3 separate regions of the Homo sapiens genome follow, and all the other regions are reported to be linked to region 1. The links are microRNA targets in miRTarBase. Many come from high-throughput screens and were not tested one by one. Region 1 holds a microRNA gene; each other region holds the end of a gene's coding sequence.

Evidence for each region. The annotated mature microRNA hsa-miR-492 reads AGGACCUGCGGGACAAGAUUCUU and lies in region 1 at 5,590-5,612, opposite strand. An mRNA with a match to its seed (bases 2 to 7 or 8) in the 3' UTR can be bound and repressed. Matches are read on the target gene's strand: a 7mer-m8 pairs with bases 2 to 8, a 7mer-A1 pairs with bases 2 to 7 and ends in A, and an 8mer does both.
Region 2: miRTarBase lists BAAT as a target of hsa-miR-492. The part of its 3' UTR that is shown has no 7-base or 8-base seed match.
Region 3: miRTarBase lists PYCR3 as a target of hsa-miR-492. Seed matches in the 3' UTR shown: 7mer-A1 at 3,945-3,951.

Annotation. Positions count from the first base shown.
Region 1 is chr12:94,829,127-94,840,038 of GRCh38, reverse strand. It overlaps MIR492 (microRNA 492), which reads right to left and starts at 5,641; the gene lies at 5,526-5,641. It also overlaps the pseudogene KRT19P2. RefSeq lists enhancers at 5,239-5,738, 5,739-6,240, 8,411-8,620, 8,631-8,840, 8,991-9,040.
Region 2 is chr9:101,355,090-101,366,001 of GRCh38, reverse strand. BAAT (bile acid-CoA:amino acid N-acyltransferase) reads left to right here. Exons shown (of 4, transcript NM_001701.4): 4 at 2,987-5,585. The coding sequence ends at 3,574. It also overlaps the pseudogene TRMT112P4 and the pseudogene LOC100421197. Among named protein-coding and RNA genes, the nearest start is that of BAAT, 24 kb to the left of the region's middle.
Region 3 is chr8:143,601,559-143,607,841 of GRCh38, reverse strand. PYCR3 (pyrroline-5-carboxylate reductase 3) reads left to right here. Exons shown (of 6, transcript NM_023078.6): 3 at 710-889; 4 at 1,163-1,375; 5 at 1,688-1,780; 6 at 1,960-4,632. The coding sequence ends at 2,142. It overlaps TIGD5 (tigger transposable element derived 5), which reads right to left. Exons shown (of 1, transcript NM_032862.5): 1 at 4,618-6,283. Among named protein-coding and RNA genes, the nearest start is that of PYCR3, 4.9 kb to the left of the region's middle.

The DNA.
Region 1 (10,912 bases):
TTGGCCAGGCTGGTCTCGAACTCCTGACCTCAGGAGATCCACCCACCTCGGCCTCCCAAAGTGCTGGGATTACAGGCATGAGCCACCACGCCTAGCCTAATATGAGTATCTTAAACAACATGGTATGTTCATCAAAATGAAAACATTTACCTTGGTACAACACTGTTAACTTTAGTTGTTAACTACATACTTTATTCACATTTTCCCAGTTTTTCCTCGAATGTTATTTTCTGTTCCAGGATCCAATCCACATTTTATTTAGTTGTCATGTCTCCTTAGTCTCCTCCGATGTATGATACTTTCATCTTCCCTTGTCTTATATGGCTGCTATAGTTTGGATGTTTGACCCTTGCTAATCTCATGTTGAAATCTGATTTCCAGTGTAGGAAGTGGGTGCCTAATGGGAGGTGTTTGGGTCATGGGGGTGGATCCCCAGTGAATAGCTTGGTGCTGTCCTTGTGGTAATGAGTGAGTTTTCACTCTGTTAGTTCCCATGAGAGCTGGTTGCTAAAAAGAGCCTAGCACCTGTACTCTCTTTCTCTCTCTTTTTTTGTGATAAGGTCTTGTTCTTTCACCCCGGTTGAAGTGGACTGGTGTGATCACGGCTCACTGCAGCCTCAACCTCCTGGGCTCAAGAGATCATCGCACCTCAACTCCCCGAGTAGCTGTGACTTAAGGCACGCATCACCTTGCCCAGTTAATTTTTCTATTTTTTGTAGAGATGGCGTTTCACTATGTTGTCCAGGCTGGTCTCGAACACCTGGGCTCAAGAGATTCTCCCCTTTTGGCCTCCCAAATTGTTGGGATTACAAACATGAGCCACCGTGCCCGGCCCCTCTCCTCTCTCTTGCTTCTCCTCTCACCATGTGATCTCTGCACACACCAGTTCCCTTTCACCTTCTGCCATGAGTGGGAGCAGCCTGAGGCCCTCACCAGAAGCAGATGCTGGCACCATGCTTCTTGAATAGCCTGCAGAACCATGAGCCAAGCATGCAGATGTTGCTTTATAACAACACTAAAAGGCTTGAGACGTATGACCTTGACACTTTTGAAGAGTCGTGTTCAGGCATTTTATAGAATGTTCTTCCATTTGGGTTTGTCTAGTGTCTTCTCAGGATTAGACTGAGGTTATGGACTTTGGGGACAAATACGATTCAGGTGATACGCTGTTCTCACTGCGTCCTTTGAAGGAGTACATGATGTCAAGATGGCTTGGTACTGGTGATGTCTCATGTCTGCTAGGTTTCACTACTGTAAGGTTACTGTCTTTCCCTTTCCATCATTGATTAAGTAGAGAGGAATCACCAAGTCCAGCCCATACTCAGGGCATGGGGGGATTAAGTTCCACCTCATGGAGGAGTATCAAAGAGTCTGTGGACATATTTTAAAACCACCACAGTAATTAATATTTGTATTAGTATTCAGCTAGGAGATATTTTAAGGTTGTGCAGATAATGTTTCTCCATAAAGTTTCACACATTAATTTTATCTTCATCAGTGGATCTTGTTAAAGCAGTTATTACTATGGTGTTTAATCATGATTTCTTCTTTTCTTTCTTAAAAAAAAATTTATAAACTGTAAAGTTCTGTATTAATGTCCATAATCCTGCTGTCACCGAAAGTGCAACAGCTGATCATTCCCAGGAAGACTGAAGGCCATAATTTTTTTTAGGGCAAACATTTCTGCTCCAGTGAAATACAGGTGATTTTCTATTTTCCTAATTCTTTCTATAATTATTAATTGGAATTCTTTTGTAAGGAAGATCTGTCCCTTTTGCTATATTTACTTAGTCACTTATTTATTTCAGTATAGGCTCACAGATATTTGTTTTATTCTATGATCTTATACTACTATCCCCCCTTTTTTCCCTCTAATTTGTTCCAGCTTTGGCTATTGGGAACTCCTTCAGTTTGGCTTATACGTCCATTTGACATGCCCCATCTTTCTTCTTTTTTCCTTTTCTCACCCTTTCCTTTTTAAAAAAAGCACCTCCTTTGCTTTCTGGCATTCTAAGATGTCCAGGTTCATCTTGTATTTTCCTTGCTGCAGTTCTTGAGCCAGCCATTTCTTCAAGGAACACTGGTCTCTTGGAGGTCATCTGGAGGATGGTATTTAGAAACCAAGATCCAGATACTAAGTGTGCTTGTTGCTGTAGGGACATCACAGCTTCAAGGCCGCCTGAGTGGAAAAAGCTAGGAAATATATGTGACATGTACACCCATATATAGTGTGTGTGTGTGTGTGTGTGTATATATAATGTATATACACACACATCCCTATATTTCTGTATCTGTGTGTGTGTATAAAACAATGCCGGCCAGGCATGGTGGCTCATGCCTGTAATCCCAGCACTTTGGGAGGCCGAGGCGGGCGGATCACGAGGTCAGGAGTTCGAGACCAGCCTGGTCAATATGGTGAAACCCCATTTCTACTAAAAATACAAAAAAATTAGCCAGACATGGTGGCGCACACCTGTAGTCCCAGCTATTCAGGAGGTTGAGGTAGGAGAATCGCTTGAACCCGGGAGGAGGAGGTTGCAGTGAGCCGAGATTGCGCCACTGACTCCAGCCTGGGAGACAGAGTGAGACTCTGTCTCAGAAAAATACAAAAAACAAACGAACAAAAATCAATGCCATGAGTCATACTGATATTGCGACATCACTTTTACTCAGTAACTTTTTGGAGAACATGATTTTAAATTTTATTTTTTTTTAATGAGAATAAACTTATACAGTTGACCTATTAGGATGGCATTTGGCCACAAGCAAAAGAAGAGTTATCCAACAGTACTGTAAACAAGCAGGGGTCCACATTCCTCACAGTCATCCTTGGAATAAGTGGAGGCTGGCCTGGGCACAGAGACCAGGACAGTGTTAGTGCTCAGGGCTGAGATCCTCTTGGCCTTCCTGGCTCTTTCCCCATGGCGGCAGATGGCTGCTATAGCAGCACTAAAGGCAGTGGAAGGGTCAAAAGGCTTCTTTTGTGTGATATGGTTTGGATATTTGTCCCCGCCCAAATCTCATGTTGAAATCTAATCCCCAGTGTTGGAGGTGGGGCCTGGTGGGAGGTGTTTGGGTCATGGGGCAGATCCCTCATGTCTTGGTGCTGTCCTTGATATAGTGAGTGATAGTGAGTGAGTTCTCAGGAGATCTGGTTGTTTAAGTTTGTGGCACCTCTGCCCCAACTCACTCTTGCTCCTTCATTCGCCATGCCATGTGACATGCCTGTTCCCATTTTGCCTTCTGCCATGAGTAAAAGCTCCCTGAGGCCTCCCTGGAAGCTGTGCTCAGGATGCTGGTGCCATGCATGTACAGCCTGCAGAACAGTGAGCCAGTTAAAACTCTTCTCTTTATAAATTACCCAGTGTCAGGTATTCCTTTATAGCAGTGCACGAATGGCCTAATACGCTTTGCATAAACCTATGTCTTTTTTTTTTTTTTTTTTTTTGAGATGGAGTTTTGCTCTTGTCGCCCAGGCTAGAGTGCAGTAGCATGATCTCGGCTCACTGAAACCTCTGCCTCCCAGGTTCAAGCGATTCTTCTGCCTCAGCCTCCCGAGTAGCTGGGATTACAAGCATGTGCCACCATGCCCGGCTAATTTTTGTATTTTTAGTAGAGACGGGGTTTCACCACGTTGGCCAGTCTGGTCTTGAACTCCTGACCTCAGGTGATCCGCCTGCCTCAGCCTCCCAAAGTGCTGGGATTACAGGTGTGAACCACCGCACCTGGCCAAACCTATGTCTTTTTATTGGGAAAGGAAAGTTTCCCTGCTGACCTCCCTGTTTAGTGAGAACCGAGTTATTCTTGCCTTTGACTTGTCACTGGCCAAAGAGAAGGAGAAAACCAAAGAAAAGGTTGAATCCCATCATCATTCACTTTCTGAGGCTGAGAGAGGGACCTGTCCTCCCTCAGATTGGGCTCAAAGGGGACAGAAAGGGCTGCTGGGTGTGCACATATAGGGTGGCCTAGGATGTAGACTTCTTAGGAACTTTTAAAGATAGGAGATACTTAATGCTTACCTTCCAGAAGGAGAAATGGAGACACAGAAAGGTTAATGTACTGGCCAAAAGTCACAGAGTATGTGCTGGAGCCAGGGTTGGAAGCCAAGGAGTGTGGTTCCAGAGTCTGTAGACACACGCTAGCCACAGGCACGTTGGATACAGTACACTCTGGGATCTGGACCTGCAGGAATGCAGGCCCGTGTTGAAAAGGTGCCAACCCCTCTGGCTCATTGTGGGTCCTGGCAATCCACATTGCAGGGTCACCTTTTTTTTTTTTTTTTTTGAGACGGAGTCTCGCTCTGTCGCCCAGGCTGGAGTGCAGTGGCGGGATCTCGGCTCACTGCAAGCTCCGCCTCCTGGGTTCATGCCATTCTCCTGCCTCAGCCTCCCAAGTAGCTGGGACTACAGGCGCCCGCCACTACGCCCGGCTAATTTTTTGTATTTTTAGTAGAGACGGGGTTTCACCGTTTTAGCCGGGATGGTCTCGATCTCCTGACCTCGTGATCCGCCCGCCTCGGCCTCCCAAAGTGCTGGGATTACAAGCGTGAGCCACCGCGCCTGGCCCAGGGTCACCTTTTTGACTGAGATGTTTTCTGTTATAGTTGTCCCTTAGGCAATGTGAAGAGGCACCCCTGTCCATTACACCGTAATTTGACTTGGCCTTCTGGATCATTTTATGTGTTGACATTTGCCCAAGAGGAGCCTGGGGATTAGACTGGAACTTTTCTTTGCTCTTGTTTTTTTTTTTTTTTCTTCCCTTGAGCCATAAAATTTTGCTGGCAGGTCAGGGGAAGAACCAGGGGTAAGGGTCTCTTCCTTCCCATCCTCCTACCCAGGAGACGTGCTTTGAGGAGAGCAGAGGCCCCAGAGCCTGCAGCCTCAGAGGACCTTGGAGGTGGACAGGTTGTTGTAATGATCTTCCTGGCCCTCAAGCAGGCTGCGATAGGTGGCGATCTCCTGCTCCAGGAGCCGCTGGTACTCCTGATTCTGCCACTCACCATCAGCTCGCACATCGCCCAGCTGGGCTTCAATACTGCTGATCAGTGCCTGGATCTGCACCAGCTGGGCTCCAAAGCATGCCTCTGTTTCTGCCAGTGTGCCTTCTAAGGGAGCTTTCACGCTGAGCTGCGAGTGCAGCTCAATCTCAAGACCCTGGAGGGTGCACTGCAGGTCAGTGACCTCAGACCTGCTTATCTGGAGCTGCTCTATGTGGCCAGTGACCTCCTGGTTCAGTTCCTCAGTCCAGCTGGTGAACCAGGCTTCAGCATCCTTCCAGTTCTGCTTGGCCATGATCTCATATTGGCTTTGCCTGTCACTCAGGATCTTGGCAGGTCCGAGCTGAATCCACCCTCACATGGACCTGGTCTCCCACTTGGCCCCTCAGGGCATTGATTTCCTCCTCATGCTTCTTCTTCAGGTAGGCCAGCTCTTCCTTCAGGCCTTTGATCTGTGCCTCCAGATCAGTCCTGGCCAGGGTCACCTCATCCAGCACCCAAACACTCAAACCAAACTTGGTTCAGAAGTCATCTGCAGCCAGTTGAGCATTGTTGATCTGCAGGACAATCCTGGCGTTCTCAATGGTGGCACCAAGAATCTTGTCCCGCAGGTCCTCGATGGTCCTGTAGTAGTGGCTGTAGTTGTGGGAGGGCCTGTGCCCCTGCTTCTGGTACTAGTCACGGAGCTTCACCTCCAGCTTGCTGTTGGCTGCCTCCAGGGCGTGCACCTTGTCCAGGTAGGAGGCCAGGCAGTTGTTGAGGTTATGCATGGTGAGCTTCTCGTTGCCCGCAAGCAATCCGTTGGACCCAGACAGGATGCCGCTGTAGCCCCCCGAAGGAGGACAAGGACACGCCGCGGCTGCTGGAGCCCCTGTGCCTGCTGGGGGACTGGAACTTTTCTAGTGAGCAGTAGAGACTGCAGTCCAGCTCGTAGGCAGCCACAGTGCTGAAGGAAGGAGCAGCCATTAGGATAGTTATGTGCTTGTCCTGGCTCTGTCACTACAAAGATTTGTGACCTCAGGCAAGGTCCCGAATCAGATGGTCTTAAGACAGTGTATCATTTCATCTGACTTTGATGGGCACAGACATACAGTCCCCCTTTTTCTGTCTCATTTCCCTCATCTGTGAAATAGGGGAACTGGAGGGATAATCTGGATAAACCTTAACATGCTTGTCAGAGGAAAGTGGGGCCCTGAACAAGAGCTGGGAGGCCCCCAGTACTTCTCTCTGCTATCTGTTCTGTGTCTTCTGTCCACTCCTTCATATGAGCTACAAGGAATCTCTGCAAAAGAGGTGAGGTGGGAACTCAAACTGAGAGGAGTGGAGACTGAGGACAAGCCAGGAAGATACGTGCCGAGAAAGATGCCAGGTGAACTCGATCTTAGACCCCACGGCGGCGTTCTCTCTGGGCCCTGGCTAGTGTCAGTCAGTGATCTCAGAGTCAGCAGATCTATTTCTCGCATCTGGATGCCAAAAAGCAGGAAATCCCTGGTCTTGGCTGGGATCAGGGGATAATCTCAGATGTGAAGGATAGGGCAGCAAGCCCTCAGATGGGCTTCCAGGCAAGTCTTGTCCCCAGTGGGAGCCCATAATTCCTTTTTTCAGCCACTTGGATCTTTTGCTTTTTAGTTTTGGTGACTGATCTTCTGTTCCAGCCAGGGAAAAAAAATTATCTGCGCAGAGGCTTGCTCCAGGATTCTCTTTCTTCTTCTTCTTCTTTTAACTAGGGACTGCTGATGTCGTCACTTCTGTTTTATTTTCTTTTGGAATTTATTCCTATTTTACAGAGTCCTTCCCTGGCCTGATGCTCTCAGGCATAAGCTTCGTGGTTAAGCTTCCCCCTTCCCCCTAAGTCTTGTTCTCTTCCCAGACACAGGCACTTCCCCCTTGGCTGTCTGAGTAAACACAGCCCCTGCCTCTTGGGATTCTACCTAATAGCCCTTTTGCCATTTGAGGCCTGGCCTGGTATCAAGTTTCTTCTTTTAAAAAACAGCCTTGGGCTGGGCGCTGCGGCTCTGCCTGTGAGCACTTCGGGAGACGGAGGCAGGCAGATGGCTCTGGGTCCAGGGGTTTAAGGCCCGCCTGGGCAACATGATGAAACCTCATCTCTTCAAAAATACAAAAATTAGCTGGGTGTGGTGGCATGCACTTGTGGTTCCAGCTATGGGTGGTGGGGGCTCTGGAGCAGGAGGATTGCTTCTGAGCCTGGGAGGTGGAGATTGCGGTGAGCTGTGATCGCACAACTGCATTCCAGCCTGGGTAACAGTGAAACCCTGTCTCAAAAAAATAAAAATAAAAATAAAAAAATAAAAACAGCCTTTAAAACCCACATTTATTTTGATTTCTAAAGCAATATATGTCTGTTGTGGAAAATTTGGGAAATAAAAGTAATAAAGAAGACAATAAAGATCAACCTTAATCCCAGTGCCCAGAGAATTAATGTTTCATGCATTTTATTTCACTTTCTTCTGGAAGTATGTATATACATGTGGGTATGAATATTTAACATAGTTGGAGCCATACTGTACCTAATGGTTTATAATACGTTTTGCTTTTATGTTCTCACTAACCCCTGTGGATATGACCCTAGACATGTCTTTGAATTTTTTGAAGTTAAATTATGCTCTACTTATTTAGTGACCATACACTCACTTTCTACCTTTTTTTCCTATCATCCCTTCTTTACTCTCATTCCCCTGTCTGTTTTAGGATGATGATGAGGAGGAGGAGGATGATCAGTCATATAGAAACTCTCGGTATTGATACATTCATGCTTGGAGTGCTCTGTAATGTTGATGCTGTTATTATCCTCTTATTAATGGAAGAGAAAACAGAAGTTAAGGAAATTGCCCAGGTTACGTGCCCTAGTAAGGGACAGAACTGGATTTGAACTTTGACACTAGCTGCAGAGTCTGGACTAGCCTCCCTTGATATTCTTCTTGTGAGCGCTTCTTTTCTGGGTCGAAGATAGCCTGATAGCATTTTCCAGATTTTGTGGATAAAGCTGGGTGTTAGTCTTGGCCTGGCCACTTCCATCCTCTGTGGCCTTTAGTAAGTTATTTCACCTCTCTAGATCCCTGTGGGCCTTTTTGGGTCTCAGGGTCTATGACTTTCTAGTGGAAAGAAAACAACAGAGACAACTTTCAAGGACAGGCCCAGAATGATAGGAATATCATTGTCTACTTGATTTCAGGGACACTTACATTTGGCTCTAAAAGACATTTCTGTGAGGAAGTTGGTTTTCTCCACACTTTACTAAGGCAGGAGCTAGGTGGTGCCCAGGAGAAGTCCCCACAGGGGCTGTGAGGTTTTCTTGGATGCTAAGTTAGAGCGGTCCTCATGAAGGGTAAGCCCCATGACATATTTCCCTTGAGTGTGCTGAGGTCACAGGGCTTCTGTGGCTCACCAGCAAGTGTGGGGAGTGAAGAGCATGTGTCCCTCCCTGGCACAGGCACCCGGCCCCCTGCCGTGTTGTGGTATCTCTTCCCAGATGATCTTTGAGGTGTGTGGCTGGAAGAATGCTCCAGTCAGCTAAAGTGGGGTTCTTTAGTCGCAGTGTGTGCTGGTGGGCGAGTGAGGTGGGCTGGGCAAGCCAGAGGTGACTGCTCTGCTTTTCCTGACATCAGTGATGGGGTTGTCTTGCTTGGTGCACAGGTATTTTTCCAGGGTTCTGTCCTTCCACTCACTGACCAGAAAAAGAAAAAGAGAACAAGAAGACGCTTGTCTTACAAAATAGAAAGTTTACCCCATGCAGTTTCCCTTCCCTTTTCATATAGATGTTACAAAGCAAAAACACACACCCACAATGAGGGGTTTTTGAACTTGGCTGGGTTTCAGCTGTCACCCAGGAAGCAGTCAGCACTGTACGTGGCCCGTTGCTTTACTCTGCAGGTGTTGGTGATTCTCGGGTGCAAGGCCTGGCAATTGTGTTCCTGTGCCAGGTCCTCTGCACATGGCTTTCTTTGTTTAGTGTTATTTCCCCTGTTTGCCAGGCTTCTCTGAGGAGATGCTGACATTTTTTCTTTGTCCAGTTCTCCTATCCTAGAAACAAACAAAAACTGCACCTTTTAAAAATGTTTTTTTCCTATGGTTGAATTGGAAAATATCTTGCTTTAGCCAGGGAATAGCACAGCTTTTGTTCTGTTAGTGAAATGATCCAGGGATTTTATTTCAAAGTATAAGGTCCCTAAGATAAGGAATGAGGGTTATAAGGGAACATGGTTATGTTTGGGCAGTCAATTAAATTGAATATAGCAGTGATGAAGCACTAAATGTACATTAGGAACATACACATATCAGTCAAGTTTTCAAGTCTCCCAAGGAAACTACAGTCATAGTGATGGTAATGATGATGTGTTGATAATAAAAAAATAACATCGGCATTTGTTGAGTATTTACCATGTGCTGTTAATAGATAGTGTGCTAGTTTAAAACAACTCTGTAGTATGTATTAATTTTTTGTATCAGAACAAGAAACTGAAACTCAGTCTAAGTAACATGCTAAAGTCAGCTAGTAAGTAGGAGTGCTGGGTTTTACACACAGATTGAGTCCACAGTTCCAACCCTTAACCTCCAGGCAAACTGCCTGCAAAATCATATTTTAACAGATGTGGGGCCGGGCATGGTGGCTCATGCCTGTAATTGCAGCACTTTGGGCCAAGGTGAGTGGATCGTTTCAGGTCAGGAGTTTGAGACCAGCCTGGCCAACATGATGAAACCCTGTCTCTACTAAAAATGCAAAAATTAGCTGGGCATGGTGGCAGGCGCCTGTAATCCCAACTACTTCGGAGGCTGAGGCAGGAGAATTGCTTGAACCCAGGAGTCGGAGGTTGCAGTGAGCTGAGATTGTGCCACTGCATTCCAGCCTGGATGACAGAGCAACACTCTGTCTCAGAAATTAATAATAATTAAAAAAAGAGATCTGGGTATTTTAGCTTTAATTAAAAAAATAATAAAGAGAGATAGAGTCTTGCTATGTTTCCCAGGCTGATCTCAAACTCCTGGGCTCAAGCGTTTTTCCTGCCTTGGCCTCCAGAGTAGCTGGGACTACAGGTGTGCACCATCGTGCCTGGCTTATAGCTTTAAATTTTGAGATACCTGAAGAAAGTGCTTTTGATAAATAAAATTGAAGAAGAAGGAAATGTATTCTTTCTCTCCATTTTGTTTCTATCTTTGGATTGCCTGTGACTCATCATGAATATGACTGGAAGATCTGCCCTCTGAACTGAGCCCATAACTTTACTGAGGTATAATTTACATATCTAAAGTCCATCCATTGTAAATACATTGATTTTTAGTGAATTTGTAGAGTTGTGCAATCATCTCCGTAATCCATGTTTATAGAACATGCCCATTACAGCACAAGGTGGCCTTGTGCCCACTTGCAGTTAGTCTCTTCTCCCACCCCCAGTCCTGGGCAACCACTAATCCACTTTCTATCTTCATACATTTGCTTTTGCTAGAAATTTCATATAAGTGGAATGATTTAATATAGGGTTTTGTGACGGGCTTTTTCTCCCTTAGCATGTTTTTGACCCTTTTCACTGTTGTAATGTACATTGGTAGTTCCTTTTTGTTGCTGAGTATCTCATTATATGGATATACAACATCTTGTTAACTCATTCACCAGTTGATGTTCGTTTGAGTTGTTTCTACATTTTGGCTATTATGAATAATGCTGCTATAATCATTTGTATGCAAGTTTTTGTGTAGACAAATGTTTTTATTTCTCTTGGGTAGACACCTAGAATTGCAATTCCTGGGACATATGGTAGATGTATATTTAACCTTTTGAAAAGCTGTTACAGTGCCTTCCACGGTGACTGTACCATTTAACCTTCCCATCTCTGGGGTATGAGGGGGTTCCAGTTGCTCCACATCCCATTCTACACTTGATATTGTCTGTCGTTTTGACTA
Region 2 (10,912 bases), not on the chromosome of region 1:
AGATTAGATTTTAAATGTTCTTACCCCAAAGAAATGGTAAGTTTGTGAGGTAATGGATATGTTAATCAGCCTGATTTGTTCATTCCACCATGTATATATGCACTGAAATATCACATTATGCACCATAAATATGTATAATTATTATTTGTCAATTAAAAATAAAAATTAGGCCAGGCACAGTGGCTCATGCCTGTAATCCCAGCACTTTGGGAGGCCGAGGTGGGCAGATCACCTGAGATCAGGGGTTCAAGACCAGCCTGGCCAACATGGAGAAAACCCAACTCTACTAAAAATACAAAAATTAGCCAGGTGTGGTGGCGGGCGCCTGTAGTTCCAGCTCGGGAGGCTGAGGCCAGAGAATTGCTTGAACCTGAGAGGCGGAGGTTGCAGTGAGCCGAGATTGAGCCACCACACTCCAGCCTGGGTGACAGAATGAGACTCAGTCTCAAAAAATAAAAATAAAGTAAAAAATAATAAATTAAAATTAAAATTAAAAAAATACAGAATTTCAGAGCTTGAAAGGAACTTTTAATTGATTCAAGCCACCCCTGTTAAATATACAGGGTAGGAAATAGAGAGTATATATGACTCATTCCATTTGTTTAGTTTTTTTTTTCCCTCTTACCCTAAGAATTTCTCACATTTTCATCAGCTTGGCATGAGTTGTATATTGATTCATGTGTTTCTAAGTAGTAGGGAAAATATCCCAAACATTGGTTTATAAAATGCCTTTAAAATATAGGAGATCAATTAAAATAAATACAGGAAGTCAACAAAGGTTTTAGAAAAGTGATGCTTCTCTCTAGGACTCTGTCCTTGCCAGGAGCCAGTGCTCAAGGAGAATCGGAGCTTTATTTTGTGACACAACAATTTTCTTTAACTCCTCCTTAGAATTCCCAACCAAATTGGTAACTGGGAGCAATACACTCAATACTCAAAAATAACTCATGAACATGTAGTTTCCTTTTCATTTTTACTGCTGTTACCTTAGTTCAGGACAGTATAATTTTCTGCTTTTATCAGTGCATTAATCTGTGGCTTTTCTGCCTCCATTTATGCAAGTCAGAGTTGTAAACACAACTATTTTACTCGCTTGCTTAAGAGTCTCCCTATTTATTATAGGATAAAGGCCAGGCTTCCTAGCATGTTAGACAAAGCTTCCTATGATCTGACTTCTGCATACTTATTCAGTCTTATCTTATGCCCATCCTTAAAATTTGTCCTAATTTTCCTCCTTAGTTAGGAAAAAAACTGAAGATGCTTAATATATCTTTCAAAGCTATGCACCATAAAGTTGGTGTTTTCTGTTTCAGACTTATTATGTTATTTCCCACCTTATACTCTAAATTAAAATAATGAAGAATGACTTGTGGTTCCTCTAAATGCCTTGCTCTTCATTGCCTCTCAGTTTTTGCATGAGTTTCTCCTATGGTGAATACATTAGGAATGTTTTGGCTACATTTCTCAGAAAAGTGGCTGATGGTGGCTTAAACATCAGCATAAGGTATCTTATTCTCTTACATAACAGGTTTGGTGATAGGTGGTTCAAACTTTGGCTTAGAAACTCAGTGTAGTTTTCAATCAAGGAGATTAGATTGACATTTCTGCAATTTTCTAGCCTTACTCTGAAGGTCACAAAATGACTCTGGCAGTTTCAGGAATTAAGTCAACAGGCCAGCATCCTAGTCTGAAAAGAATGATCATAAACATAGGCTTTCTCTTCATGATTCTGTGTCAGTTTGCACGGGGGGCAAAAAAAGTCCTTAGGTAGAATATGTTGGCCTTGGAAGAGAGGCTGAGAAAGGGAAATAGATTAGGATCCATCAGAATTTATCCCTTGGGGCTGGATATATTGCTATGCCACACAAAATCAAGGTCATATTAGCTTTGAAATTGTGGAGAATGGCTCCTGTGTAGGCAACTAACAGAGTCTGCTATACTCAGCATAGAATACCATTCCTTCTTGTTGACTTTCTTGTAATTTTTATTTCTTGAGACAGGGTCTCACTCTATTGCCCAGGCTGGGGTACAATAGCACAATCATAGCTCACTAAAGCCTTGAACTCCTGGGCTCAAGTGATCCTTCCACCTCAACCTGAGTAGCTGGGCCTACAGGCACACACCGCCATATTCAACTAATTTTTTAGTTTTGTAGAGATAGGGTCTCACTATGTTAACCAGGCTTGGCTTTCATTTTTTAATACGAAGACTCATTTGTTTTGTAGCCCATTTCCTCTGAGAGCCTTTCTTTGATCCTGCCTTTATTCCCTGCTAATCTGGGTTGGCAGTCTAGCCTACATACATTCTCATATCATAGAATTTATGATGCTCCAATCATCTGGTGTGTTTTTTTTTTTCCTCCTGTGTCTTCATCTGGCAGTGAGTTCCTTAATGACAAGAGATTGTTCCTTTTCTCTCTGTGACTCCCAGTGCTTGCCGTAGGATAGATAATTTAAGGATGCTTATTTGATGACTGACAATGAGGGAGGAAGCTGAGCCAAGCCTCCTTTATGACATTTTTCTCCACAATGAGAAAACTTTTGGAAAAAACAAAGCAAATCTAGAATCCTCTGTTCAACTCTATCCTACTGATCTCACTTTCTTTCTCAGTCTCTTCCTACAAGGTGCCCTTTCCTCTGAAGGGAGGAAAGTGTACCAATCATCTATACCCTGACCCACATTATTCACAATAGTCATGTGCCATTTCTTACTTTCCCTGCGACATTTGCATTTCTTTAGGGCATTTTAAACTCAGAACCTAACACAATACTGAATCCGTAATATATAGTCGGTAAAGCTTGACATATTTTTGGAGTATTTCTTTTGAATACATATTATATATTCCAGAACTCTATAGCTAGGGATGTGGGTAGGATTAATACTTGCTTTGTTCTCATTAGCCAGTGAAGTTCTTTGGTTGTTTGAGATTGTGGAGTTTTCCTAAATGAAGGCTAGAATAATTTCTCATTTCTATTATTTTTTTCAGGTCTTTGGCTCAGGCGTTGGGGTAGTCTCTGTATGTCAAGGAGTACAGATTGGACTATCTATGGCTATTTACCTAAAGCAAGTCACAGCCACGGTACTTATTAATGGGACCAACTTTCCTTTTGGCATTCCACAGGTATATCATGGTCAGATCCATCAGCCCCTTCCCCATTCTGCACAATTAATATCCACCAATGCCTTGGGGTTACTAGAGCTCTATCGCACTTTTGAGACAACTCAAGTTGGGGCCAGTCAATATTTGTTTCCTATTGAAGAGGCCCAGGGGCAATTCCTCTTCATTGTAGGAGAAGGTGATAAGACTATCAACAGCAAAGCACACGCTGAACAAGCCATAGGACAGCTGAAGAGACATGGGAAGAACAACTGGACCCTGCTATCTTACCCTGGGGCAGGCCACCTGATAGAACCTCCCTATTCTCCTCTGTGCTGTGCCTCAACGACCCACGATTTGAGGTTACACTGGGGAGGAGAGGTGATCCCACACGCAGCTGCACAGGAACATGCTTGGAAGGAGATCCAGAGATTTCTCAGGAAGCACCTCATTCCAGATGTGACCAGTCAACTCTAAGAAGACTAGATATTCCTAGAAAATAAAGAAGCAAATCTCTTTACCGGGACCTTCTCTCAATTTTCATGGCGGAATGTCTCCCCCAGCTGCCACACACACATTTTGTATTAATTTTAATGATTAAAAAGAGCATAGGGTAAAAACCTGATATTTCACTTATACTGCATAACAAGCTAACCAAACTGGACATGGTGAATAAATCATAAAACAAATCATTTTACTTATTATTTACATGACTTTTCTTTCCATCAGGTCTTCTAAATAGGACTGAGGTATAGTACACTGGCAAAAATAAGAAAAGGCAAACAAGAATAGCACCAAAGTAACAGATATAAAACCAAATACCATGTCAGAAAACACTATATAGTAAGAATTTATCAGATTAGAGCAGCAGGAGAAAATTAATACTAAATTATAATCATTTTAGTGATATTTTTCAACTTCACCACAGTAACTTTGCAACATCATTTTTCATTTGTGGGGTAGTAAAATTCATGTCAAAAAGGAAAGAAGGAATGGAGGAGGTCAGTTAGTTCATTGCAATAAATTACCTCTTCAGTTCTTAAAAACATGCCCATTGGCACATAACTGAGACATAATAACTAAGACTGGAAGAGCCTTGGTTTAAGTTATGAAGCAAATTAAAATGGAAAATACAAGAAAATAGAACCAATTAGGTTGAAAATGCCCCTTACTGAAAATCTGTATTAAAAATAAAATTAATAAAAGTAAAAAATAAAAATAGAAACACAACTCTACTAGTACAGGCTAGCCTGGGGAGTTTGATAAACTGAGTGATTGGGTCAACTATCACTGTACTTCCATAATGAATTTCTTCAGTCATGTTAGAGTAGCACATGAATGTGAGCTCTATAAGGACAGGTACTATATTTCCGTAAGACCCAATAGTTACTGTACATCCCATAAATAAAAAATACTTTAGTTTGCTAACCAACTGAATATATGAGGACTGCATGTAATTCAACCACATGGTTGTTTGCTGTACAGTCCTTTGCAAATATTAAAAAATTTTTTTTGCTATAAGGCTTTGATCATATAGTCCTCATAGCAACATAACTACCATCTAGCATGTACCACATTTTGCAAGACTTTAAGTTCAACATTCCAAACTGCCAATTTGTATTATGTCCAAATGCAGTATCCTTGAGGAATATAGTGGGTCAGTTAAATATCTAGAGACATACAAACATCTGCTAATTCATCTCATTGAGATGGATCATTCTGATCTCCATCATCCACCCACTTTTCATCAGCTTCTCCTACTTCATTCTCCTCATAGTCTTTATCATGAGGGATTCTGTATCCTGTCTCTCATCTACACTTGCTGGCCTTCCTGGTTGTGATTTATTGGAACAGTCTACACAAAAACCATAGGGTCAAGATCCATGTCTTACTCCAACACTGGCTGCTAACATGATCTTACATACCATACATTTGCATTTTTATCCTTCTTGTGCACCAAGAAATGTTTTCTTACATGTTTTCTCCAAGTGTAAAAAGTCACAGCTAAATGATCTCACTCCTGTATGAATAAGCAAGTGCTTTTTTAGTGTTTGTTTGCATTTGGCTGCATAGCTACAATGATGGCATTTTAACTTATTCATGATTAGAGATGATGATATGGTTTGGATATTTGTTGTGCCCAAATTTCATGCTGAAATGTAATCCCTAGTGTTGGAGGTGAGGCCTGGTGGGAGTTGTTTGGGTCATGGGGGTGGACCCTCATGGCTTGGTACTGTCCTCATGAGAGTATGATAGTGAGTGAGTTCTCAAGAGATATGACTGTTTAAAAGTGTGTGGCACCTCCTCCCCATCCTCACACTCTTTCTTGCCTCCTCTCTCGCCATGTGAGATGCCTCCTCGCTGTTCACCTGCTGCCATGATTGTAAACTTCCTGAGGCCTCCCCAGAAGCCAAGTAGATGCAAGCATTATGCTTCTGTAAAGCCTGCAGGACCATGATCCAATTAAATCTCTTTTCTTTATAAATTACCCAGTCTCAGGTATTTCTTTATAGCAACACAAGAACAACCTAACATGAATGATTCACCATTTTCCCAAGTTTCTTGTTTTGGCCAAGATTCTGGCAATAATCCATATTTGAAATCAAAGTATCTGGTATCAATTCATACTTGAAGTCACTTGAAGTGCCAGGCATCAAACCATACTTATTATAAAATCATGTGAAGTTCTAACATCACCTCCATCTTGATTAGACCCAGCTTCAGCCAATACATTCTTATCATCATCTGGCCCTGAAAGTAGAGCAACATCCAAATCTGGTTCTTCCAAGATTTCTACTCAAATATGAGTAGCGTATTTTCCTCTGAAAAGGCAATAGATGGCTGCATCATTGAGTAATCTTCCAAATTTGTTTCATTATTAGATGATGTATTATAAATAAATCTCCTTGTAGTTTGGTTTTTCCTCCGTGTTTCCCAGTTTCTTGAATTCCCTGGGAGCCCATATTATTCCAAGCAAACACTTGTTTGACCTTTGGATTTGTTTTCAGCCATTTCAGGAGATGCATTCTGGACCCAACTATTGTCACTCACTTGGTAGTTTTCTGTTTGGCCCTTGTTGACATTACAGCCATCATTTTCAGTTTTTATATTACTTGCCAAATTGGTAAGATTTAATGTTGCCCAAAAATTGGCAATTTTTTGATCCAATGATGAAGACAGACCATCTCTATTAACTGAGTTTTGTTTGTTTGTTTGTTTGTTTGTTTAGACAGTCTTGCTCTGTCACCCAGGCTGGAGGGTAGTGGCACAATTTTGGCTCACTGCAACTTTTGTTTCCCAGGTTCAAGCAATTCTCATGCCTCCCGAGTAGCTGGGATTACAGGCGTGAGCCACCATCCTTGGCTAATTCTGTATTTTCAGTAGAGACAGGGTTTTGCCATGTATGCCAGGCAGATCTTGAACTCCTGGCCTCAAGTGATCCATGTACATTGGCCTCCCAAAGTGCTGGGATTACAGGCATGAGCCACCATGCCCGGCCTGGTTTTCTATTATTATAGTCCACAACTGCAGACCCATGGAACTTCTGATTTAATGCTTATATTTAATCTTTAATAAATTTAGGCATCTGTAATAAAATTTCAGCAAGTTTGAAATTTCACTTGTTTGAAGATAGGCCACTGTCATTATTTTGGCTTGTGAGTACAAGGTTACCAGAATACAAGAAGTCCACAAGGACTGAAAAATTTTGACTGCTGCAGTATCTAAGTGGGTAGTATTATTTCGGTTAGGGCTTTCTTAGTTTTTAACACTATATAAAGTCTTAAAGAAATGGCTGCCAGCAACCAGGATGTTCTTAGGAGCCTTACAGATTTTCTGCTTACTACAGTGCTGACACCACAAAGTTTACCTTTCTTTTTTGTTCATTTTGTTGTCACAGAAGTTGACAGCAGTAACAGTTCTCATTTGGTCTGCTAGTAAACTCACAGTACCCCTCCTCTGATGGTATTCCTGACTAAAAGCGTACGTCATCTGACTAGCTATATTTTTTTAAAAAATTTTGGCTGTTTTGACTACTGCCGTCCACGTAAGATATGACTTGACTTGCTCCTCCTTGCCTTCCGCCGTAATTGTGAAGCCTCCCCAGCCACTTTGAACTAGATGGGGTTTCGCCACGTTACCCAGGCTGGTCTCAAACTCCTGGGCTCAAGCAATCTGCCAGCTTCAGCCTCCCGAAGTGTTGGGATTACAGGTATGAGCCATCGTGGCTGGCCAATATTTGAACTGAGTGTGGAGTGGCACAGGAAGAGTGGGGAAGAACTGGAGTGAGCCACTGGCTTCGGGTGGGATGCTCAGGTTTTAGTGAGGAATGGGGTCCATCTGCAGACTCCTCTTCAGACTGCCAGTCATGCTCAGTGGTCAGATCCTCTCTTAACAGGGGTTCCTCACATAGCAGTCAAGTGGGAAACTGGAGATTTGCTTGGAAAATATCCCCATCTGTGTCCCTGCTCTGAGCAGGGTAAAGTTTCTGGTAAAACAGCACACAGGGAAAAGGATCAATTCTTTCTGTTGACCGGCCTAGAGTGGTCCTGCTATGAGTCAAGGGGAAAGGTGTAAGAGTATTTACCAAGATATCTTTCTGAGAGCCCTCTGATATTAAGGTCAACTGACTCTTCTCTAAATGGCCTTTATTTAACTATTTCTCTCAGCCTATAGGACTTGCCCAATGATATGGTTTGGTTCTGTGTCCCCACCCAAATCTGCAGAGGTGGGGCCCTCATGGAGAACCTCTGCTAGGGCAATGTGGAAGGGAAATGTGGGGTCAAAGCCCCCACACAGAGTCCCTACTGGGGCACTGGCTAGTGGAGCTGTGAGAAGAGGGCCACCGTCCTCCACATCCCAGAGTGGTAGATCCACTGACAGCCTGCACTGTAGGCCTGGAAAAGACTCAGGACACTCCACAACTGCCTGTGAAAGCAGCCATGAGGGAGGCTGTACCCTGCAAAGCTATAGCGGCAGTGCTGCCCAAGACCATGGGAACCCACCTCTTGCATCAGTGTGACCCAGACGTAAGACATGGAGTCAAAGGAGATCATTTTGGAACTTTAAGATTTGACTACCCTGCTGGATTTTGGACTTTCATGGGGCCTGTAGCACCTTTGTTTTGGCCAATTTCTCCCATTTGGAATAGCTATATTTACCCAATGCCTGTACCCCCATTGTATCTAGGAAATAACTAGCTTGCTTTTGATTTTACAGGTTTGTAGGCAGAAGGGACTTGCCTTGTCTCAGATGAGACTTTGGACTTGGACTTTTGGGTTAATGCTGAAATGAGTTGAGCCTTTGGGGGATTGTTGGGAAGGCATGATTGGTTTTGAAATGTGAAGATAAAAGATTTGGGAGGGACCAGGGGCAGAATGATATAGTTTGGCTCTGTGTACTCAACCAAATATCATCTTGTAGCTCCCATAATTCCCATGTGTGTGGGAGGGACCTGATGGGAGATGATTGAATTATGGAGGCAGGTCTTTCCCATGCTGTTCTCATGATAGTAAATAAGTCTCACGAGGTCTGACCGTATTATAAGGGGGAGTTTCCCTGCACAAGCTCTCTTAGCCTGCCGCCATCCATGTAAGATGTGACTTGCTCCCCTTGCCTTCCATCATGATTGTGAGGCCTCCCAGCCATGTAGAATTGTGAGTCCAATTAAACCTTTTTCTTTTGTTAAGAAAAAAAAGTTTTAGAGATAGGGTCTTACTATGTTGCCCAGTCTGGTCTCAAACTCCTGGCTTCAAGCAATCCTTCTGCCTCAGCCTCCCAAGTAACTGGGATTAGAGACATAAGTCACTGTGCCTGGATTTTCATTTTAAATATTTATAATATTGTATGTAGGTTTTCATTTTTTGCTCTTGCTGTAGGTCCCACAAATGTGAGGGATAGGCTTGTACATCACATATGCCCATTACTATGATCTTAATATTAATGCCCCCAAAATTTATATGTTTAAAAACCTAATCCCCAAGGTGATGACATTAAGAGGTGGGGCCTTTTTGGAAGTGATTAAGCCATATGGGCAAAGCCCTCATTGGGATCAGTGCCCTTATGAAAGAGGTTGAAGACAATCTGCTGAGCTTGCATGTGTGGGGGTGGGGCCCTGTGGCTTCCCCCTGCACCTCCAGGCCACTGAGGTCTGCATCTGCCCTCTGGAGTTCAACCCTCACTTAGTGGCACAGTATGATACCCTAGGAGTGACCGGTGCTCCTGGAGGCAGCTGATACATACCTTGCACCTGACTGGGGTGCCTAAAGGGCCAGTTGAGGGATATGAGGAGGATGAACAGTTTCTGAGGAAGATGTACCATGTGCTGCTGGAGGTGGATGTGTTGGAGGGCACCCTGCAGTGCCCAGAGTCTAGACGTGTGTTCTGCCTCAGTCGCAGGGTTCCCAATATGCTGCTGAATGATGAGGAAACTGAGAGTTGATTGTGCCAAGTGCCAGTTTTCCTTCTCATGATCGTGTGAATTTTTGTTGATGTATATCCTGTTTCCTAATTCTGCTACATGTATCCCCAACCCTTGGCCCAATGGCACACCAAACACACCATATTCTTGAGCTCGATAGTATATGTTTTTTCTCATTAAAGTTTCAAACAAAAAAAAAGTAAATAAAAAAATAAAAATAAAAAAGAGGTTGAAGGGAGGTGCCTTGCCGCCTTCACCATGTGAGGATGCAGAAACAAGATGCTATCTATGGAGCCGAGAGTAGCCCTTACCAGAGACCATATCTGCTAGTTCCTTGATCTTAGACCTCCCAGGCTCCAGAACTGTGAGAAATACATTTCTATCGTAAATTACCCCGTCTAAGGCATTTCATTATAGCAGCAGAGACCAACAAAGACAGAAATAGGCACAGAGAGATAGGGTGTGTTAATAACAAAACCTAAAAATGGGAAAGCAGCTTTGGAACTGCATAATAAATAAAGGATGGAAAGAGTTTACAGGTCCACTGCCATGAAAGGAGCCTTAGGGGCAACTCAGGTGAGGGTTCAGAAGAAGGTGAGGTTGAAGAAGCTGTAGAAATAGCCTCCATCTTCTTAGAGATTACCTAAGTGGTTGTGATCAAAATGTTGATAATACAGAAATACAGATGGTAAAGGCCATTCTGATGAAGTCTCAGACAAAAATGAAGGACACGTTATTGGCAACTGAGGACTAGATGATCTCTGTTACAAAGGGGCAAAAGAACTTGGCCAAATCATGTTCATGTTCTAGAAGAAATCTCTAAGCAAAATGTTGAGGATTTTGACTACTTATAATAAAATGTGGAAGCAGAACTTAAAGATTTGGAAAATTCTCAGCCTGGTCATATTGTATAGAGTGGAAAGCTGTGTTCAAGAGAGAACACCAAGGGTGTGGCTAAGTAACCGTTTGATAAGGAGATTAGTACGGTGAGGCAGAAATCAGGTGCTATTTATCAAGATAATGAAAGAATGACACCAAAGGCCTTTCAGTGTTTATTTGTGCTGTCCTTCCTATCATAGGCACAGACTGCCAAGGCTGGGGGCAACATATCTGTATCAAAAGAGGAAGCTTGGAAACCGGTAGGACCTTGACGCCAGGTGGCCTCAAATCTCCACTTCCTGCATTCTGCTGCAATGCTCCTCACCTGCCCCAGGTATGGTTCACGCAGGCCCATGTGCAGTTTGGGCCACTCTCTGGAAGGCAATATAGTAAATCTTGGTGGTGTCTGTGCAGTGCTATCTCTACCAAAGTGCAGAGTGCACAAGTCATGAGGGCATGCCTGCCTCCACTTAGATTTCAAAGGATGCCCCAGAAAGCCTCAGAGCCCAGACAGAGAA
Region 3 (6,283 bases), not on the chromosome of region 1:
TGTGAGTGCATGTCCGTGAGTGTGTGTATATGCACGTGTGTATATGTGAGGCTATGCGTGTGCATGTGTGTATGTATGTGCTCATGTGCGTTTGCACGTGCGCTTGTGTGTGCGTGTGCACGTGTGGTGAGTGCATGTATGTCAGTGCATGTGTGTGCGTGTGTGTATGAGTGCATGCTCATGAGTGCATGTGCACCTGTGTGGTCGTGAGTGCACGTATGTGCTTGTGCATGTGTGCCTGTGCAGATGTGTATATGAGTGCGTGTGTGCGTGTATGAGTGCGTGCGTGTACACATGAGTGCATGCTCGAGTGGGTGTGTGTGCATGTGTTTGTGCTCATGAGTGCATTCATGTGTACATGTGTATGTATGCTCGTGAGTGCATGTGTCTGCGTGTGTGTATATGAATGCATGCTCGTGAGTGCGTGCATGTGCATGGGTGTGTTTGCATGCTGGGTGGTGGTCACAGACATTCACTGGGGATGGAGGGCTCAGGGCTTGGGGAGGCGCTGACATCAGGATGGCCTGTGAGGAGTAGGGCTAGTCTGGGGGAGTCTTGGGCACTGGAGAAGTCGGGGTGGTCTAGACACTTGCAATGGGAGAGGCCCTGGGACCATGGGAACGTGTGGCATCCAGCAGGAAGGGCTGTGATGGAGAGGGTGCGCCGCTTACATGGCCCCTGAGGCTTGGTCCTGGTGTCCCTGGCGCAGGCTCTGGGTTGCCGGACCACGCACTCCAACCAGGAGGTGCTGCAGAGCTGCCTGCTCGTCATCTTTGCCACCAAGCCTCATGTGCTGCCAGCTGTCCTGGCAGAGGTGGCTCCTGTGGTCACCACTGAACACATCTTGGTGTCCGTGGCTGCTGGGGTGTCTCTGAGCACCCTGGAGGAGGTGAGTGTCCCTTGGGCTAAGGCCTTGGTCCCAGTATAGGCTCTGCTGGCCAGGCTTGGGCGGCAGGCAGCCCCCCAGAGAGCCTGAGAGGTGGCCGTGTGGCCCACCTGGATCAAGTGGCTGGATTTAGGGTTCCCTCCTGGTGCTGTACCTGGGAGGCAGACGCTGGAGCCCACCGCGAGCTGACGTGGACCTTTCCTGAGGCCCCTGCTGGGGCCTGCCCAGCAGGGCCCAGTCCTACAGACTCCCTGATTCTGACCTCTCTCTGGCCAGCTGCTGCCCCCAAACACACGGGTGCTGCGGGTCTTGCCCAACCTGCCCTGTGTGGTCCAGGAAGGGGCCATAGTGATGGCGCGGGGCCGCCACGTGGGGAGCAGCGAGACCAAGCTCCTGCAGCATCTGCTGGAGGCCTGTGGGCGGTGTGAGGAGGTGCCTGAAGCCTACGTCGACATCCACACTGGCCTCAGTGGCAGTGGCGTGGCCTTCGTGAGTATTGCCTCGTCCATCCCCGGCCCCACCCTCGGCAAAGAGGGGGCCCACCCCAGTCCCTCTGACAGCCTCTGCCCTCAGAGTCCAACCTTGAGGCCTGCGTGGTTGCTCCCCAGGCCCACTGGGAGCTCTGCTTGTCCCCGGGACTTCACTGCCTTGGGGATCTTTGAGGCCAGCCCCTTTGCAGACCGTTGGGCTCAGGCCTTGGTTCTGGCCACCCACGGCTACTGCTCTGGGCATTGTTCCTGAAGGTCCTGAGCCCCCAGGCTTTGACACCTATCCCCCCCAACCACCATGCCGCGGCTACAGGTGTGTGCATTCTCCGAGGCCCTGGCTGAAGGAGCCGTCAAGATGGGCATGCCCAGCAGCCTGGCCCACCGCATCGCTGCCCAGACCCTGCTGGTGAGTGAGGGTGGCCCCTGGGGAACATCGGGAAGGCCCAGGCCTGTACCTCTTCCAGTGCGCAGGGAAACAGCAGGCTCGAGAAGCTGGGGCCAAGGTTGGGGGATGCAACGAGGGCAGGCCGCACAGTGGGGACCGCACCACCTCCCCCCGTCACCAGGCCCTAACGCTCTCCTCAGGGGACGGCCAAGATGCTGCTGCACGAGGGCCAACACCCAGCCCAGCTGCGCTCAGACGTGTGCACCCCGGGTGGCACCACCATCTATGGACTCCACGCCCTGGAGCAGGGCGGGCTGCGAGCAGCCACCATGAGCGCCGTGGAGGCTGCCACCTGCCGGGCCAAGGAGCTCAGCAGAAAGTAGGCTGGGCTCTGGCCATCCTTTCCTGCCTCTGTGCCCCTGCCTCTCCCTGTGTCCCTTCCCCTGAGGACTGCGGCTCCCTCCCTCCTGCATGAGGGTCTCCTACTGCTCCTTCTCCCCTTGCACAGGGAAATGCAGGGGGCAGGACTTGGGAGGTTCCAGCAGGCGGGGGAGCCCCGACCAGTGGGGACACTCCTCCCTCCCCAGTGAGCAGAAGGCACCGTGGTGGTGGCTCTGCCCCTTGCTGCAGTGAGCCCACCTTGCTGCAACATTGGTTCTGAGGGGCCCAAGAGATGGCGTCTTGGTCATTTGCCCGCATGGTTGGGCAGTTGGTTGAGGCCATGAACAGAACTTACGGTAACAGGCACGGCTGGCCCAATGCCTGGTCTGGAGCTGGAGCTTGCCTTTGGCTTTCCAGGTGGCTCCGTGCAGCTACAGCCAGGCCGGCTGCCTCATCTCAGCTCTAGGGGGCACGAGCCATATGGGGTCTGCACAAGAGACCCTCTCCCCTGCAGTAAAGCCAGGGGCCCTGGCCTGATGGGGCCCCCATGGGGAGCTGGAGCCTGCCCTGCAGCCTGGAGAAGAGGGTGGCTGTGGTGGGCGTGCTCATCCCCTGCTAAGGAGCAGGAGCTGCTGGGCCAGGTCTGCGGCAGTGCTGGGGTGGCACCAGGTGGGCAGTGGTAGGTGGGGTGGCTTGAGGTCTGGGAGGGTGGCCCTGGCCAGCCAGGACACATGCAGACCCCTGGCTTTAGTCTGGATACAGGCTCCCTCTTTCCTCCCAATCCTAAGCTCCTGACAAGTGGCCAGGTGGCTCTGGGCCCTCCTGCCCCGTGCCTAGGTCAGGGGTCCTGGAATACCCCGTAGCTCTGGCACCACCACACTGGCCTCTGATGGCAAGACTTGGCCCCTCCACCTGTCCCTAACGGACGGCAGGTCAGGAAAGCCAGGACTCAGGGGAGAAGCAAACCCCCAGGATTGAAGGCTAGGGTTCTAGGGCCTTTGGGTGGGGAGGGCCCGGGCCGGACAGCCTCAGCTCCGTCCCCTGCCCCACAAGATTCACCTGGGCCTCCAGTCCCACGCTGGCCCCAACTGCTGCAGCTCTCGGCTTCCGCCCAACAGCCTCTGGAGGTGAGGCGGGAGCATGCCCTCAGCGAGGCTGGGCGGCGGGTCCTGCTGTGCCATCTCCCTGTGCGCCTGAGCAGATCAATCCACCAGTGCAAAACAGGGCTAACGGCACCTGCAGGACAGCAGCACGCTCCATCCCTCATGCTCAGCTGCCTCTGCGGCCACGGACTTCTGCCCTTCATCTGCTCTCTCTTACTCTCCTGAGCCTAGCCCGTCCGTAAGCTCCCTCCCCTGCCTGGTTCCCAGGGCAGGCTGACTCAGTTGACTGCTTGGTCCAAGCCTGGCCCTGGCACTTGTCAGGGTCAGCCTAAGGAGATGGGAATAAAGAGGCCAGAGAGCACCAAGTGAGCTCATGTTTCACCAGAGGTGGATAAAACCAAGTTCTGGGCTGGGCCCAGTGGCTCACATCTGTAATTCCAGCACTTTGGGAGGCCGAGGCGGGCAGATCACAAAGTCAGGAGTTTGAGACCAACCTGACCAACATGGAGAAACCCCATCTCTACTAAAAATACAAAATTAGCTGGATGTGGTGGTGCGTGCCTGTAATCCCAGCTACTTGGGAGGCTGAGGCAGGAGAATTGCTTGAATCCAGGAGGCGGAGATTGCAGAGAGCCAAGATCATGCCACTGCACTCCAGCCTGGGTGACAGCAAGACTCTGTCTTGGAAAAAAAAAAAAAGAAGGTCCAATGCCTGCCCCATAAGTTGAGGCCTGGAACCTTGGTCAAGCACAGGTGTCAGCCGAAGGGGGTGCTGGCACTGTGGACAGCAGAGGTCTCCCCATGCCTGCTACAGGCCTCTACATCACCTGGGGGCTTTGTAGGGCATGGAATTGCAGTTTCCCCTGCACGCTGTCACCCCAGGGGACTGTATGCCAAGCCTGGGCAGGCCTGGGAGCCTGGGGTCTGGTGCAGGCGGCCCCCTGAAGGAAGGTGGACAGCCCTTCTGACGGCCACCTGCATTCACACCAAGCCCATCTGCAAGGAGAAATCATTGACTTTGCACCAACACCTGTCTCCCCCTGGGACCTCTGACAAGCCCTGGGCACTAGGTGAGCTCAGCTCGGGAGGTGGAGATCCCAAGCCAGCCACTCCTGGCCCAGCTGGTGAGGGCCTGTGACAAAGACACGGGCTCAGTTCTCGGCACGGCAGGGAGCGTTGTGGTGAGCCAGGCCTCCCCTGTGCCTTCTACTTCCAGGTGAAAACTGTTCTTCAAGACAGAAAACGATGGATATGATTACGGTATCTTTGATCAATGTTCCACTTTTATGCCCTATGCCCCAACTGTTAATCTAGGGGGTATTCCTGATCCAAGCGTTGGATCAAGAGTTTAAAAATAAGACTTCAAAACAGGGATGCTCATGAAGTGGACATGTCCAGCCTTTATTAGATAAAGCCACTGGGCCCATCTGACCAGGCGAGCTCAGCTGTAAACAAGCTCGCCAGTTAGAGGAAGGGCCCTCAACAGAGCATGACCCCACAAGCCTAGGGACTCCGACATGCTGTTGGGGCTGCTCCCCATGGGTGTCTCAACTAGGTAGGTAAGGGGTTGGGGTCTCTGCAGGACCCCCCCGTCTGGGGGTGCTCCCCTTCCTTTCCTACCACAGTGTGATGTTTCATCCGCAGCCCAGTGGACATCGAGGGGGTCCCCCAAGCCTGCAGGTCCTTGGGCCAAGGCAGTGGCCTCGTCCCCCTGAAAACGCGGGTCGGGTGGTTTCAACAAAACCTGCACTCATCTTTCCCTCCTCAGCGCCTTCCCTTCTCCAGCCCCCACAAGCCCAGGAACTCTGACAATGATGCTGACACGGGGGTCACTAACTGGAAGAGCAGTGAACAGGAGCTGGGGGCTCTTGGGGGCCATCTGAGCTGAGGACAGCTGGCTGTACCTCCGAGGCCACAGGCACCCCCACCCACCCCTGCGCCTGCAGGGAATGTGCAGAATCTGCCAGAGCGGAGGCCAGAGCCCGCAGGCAGCCACGGCTGTTAGAGGAAGCAGATGCAGCCTCACCCCAGCCCACGTCTGTCACCACAGCCAGGGCCTGGCAGGCGATGGCACCCGCGCAGCTTTGGGAAAGAACACTTGGCCTCCCAAAGGGTTCTGCCACCCCTGGGGGCCGCTACAGCCACCAACCCTGGGGTCTTTCCATCACTTCAGACACTGAGCAGAACCCAGAGAGGGTTAGTGAGCTGCAGGTAGGGCTGGGACGGGGCCCCAGGTTCCAGCCCAGGGTCTCAGGGATCCATGGCTGGCACTGCCCACAGGGCCAGGCATGGGCAGAGCAGCCTTCTCAGCAGCGGGGCCCAGCGGCCAAGCCTCTGTCACACAGCACCCTGTGCCAGCATGCCCCGTGCTAGGGAGAAGATGCTTTTTAAGCCCTCTTTAGGGGGTATTTCCCGTCTAGTAAGTGCCAGCAGGCAGACCCACTCTTGACAGGCTCCTAATGTCCCCACCAGCGTGCACCTGCACTTTTTTTTTTTTTTTTTTGAGACAGAGTCTCGCTCTGTCGCGCAGACTGGAGCGCGGTGTTGTGATCTTGGCTCACTGCAATCTCTGCCTTCTGGCTTCAAGCATTTCTCGTGCCTCAGCCTCCTGAGTAGCTAGGGTTACAGGCACCTGCCACCACGCCCAGCTAATTTTTGTATTTTTAGTAGAGACGGGGTTTTCACCATGTTGGCCAGGCTGGTCTCGAACTCCCAATCTCAGGTGATCCACCCGCCTCAGCCTCCCAAAGTGCTGGGATGACAGGTGTGAGCCAACGTGCCTGGCCTCTTTTATCTTATAGCAAAAATTAGTGCTGCCTTGTTTATAGAAAGTGGCCATTGAGGGACTGGGGGACAGGCCACAGCCACCCCGATGAGAGGAGCGGGCCTGCCCTCACCGACACCAGCCTCCTGGGACCCGGGCCAACAAAAGGGCTGAGATGGGAAGAAAGGTTGGAAATGAAAGCCTCGCCAAAGACGCAGCGGCAATGAGTAGTTGGGCTGAAGGGCAGCGCCACGGGCCGCCCAGACTACAGACAAG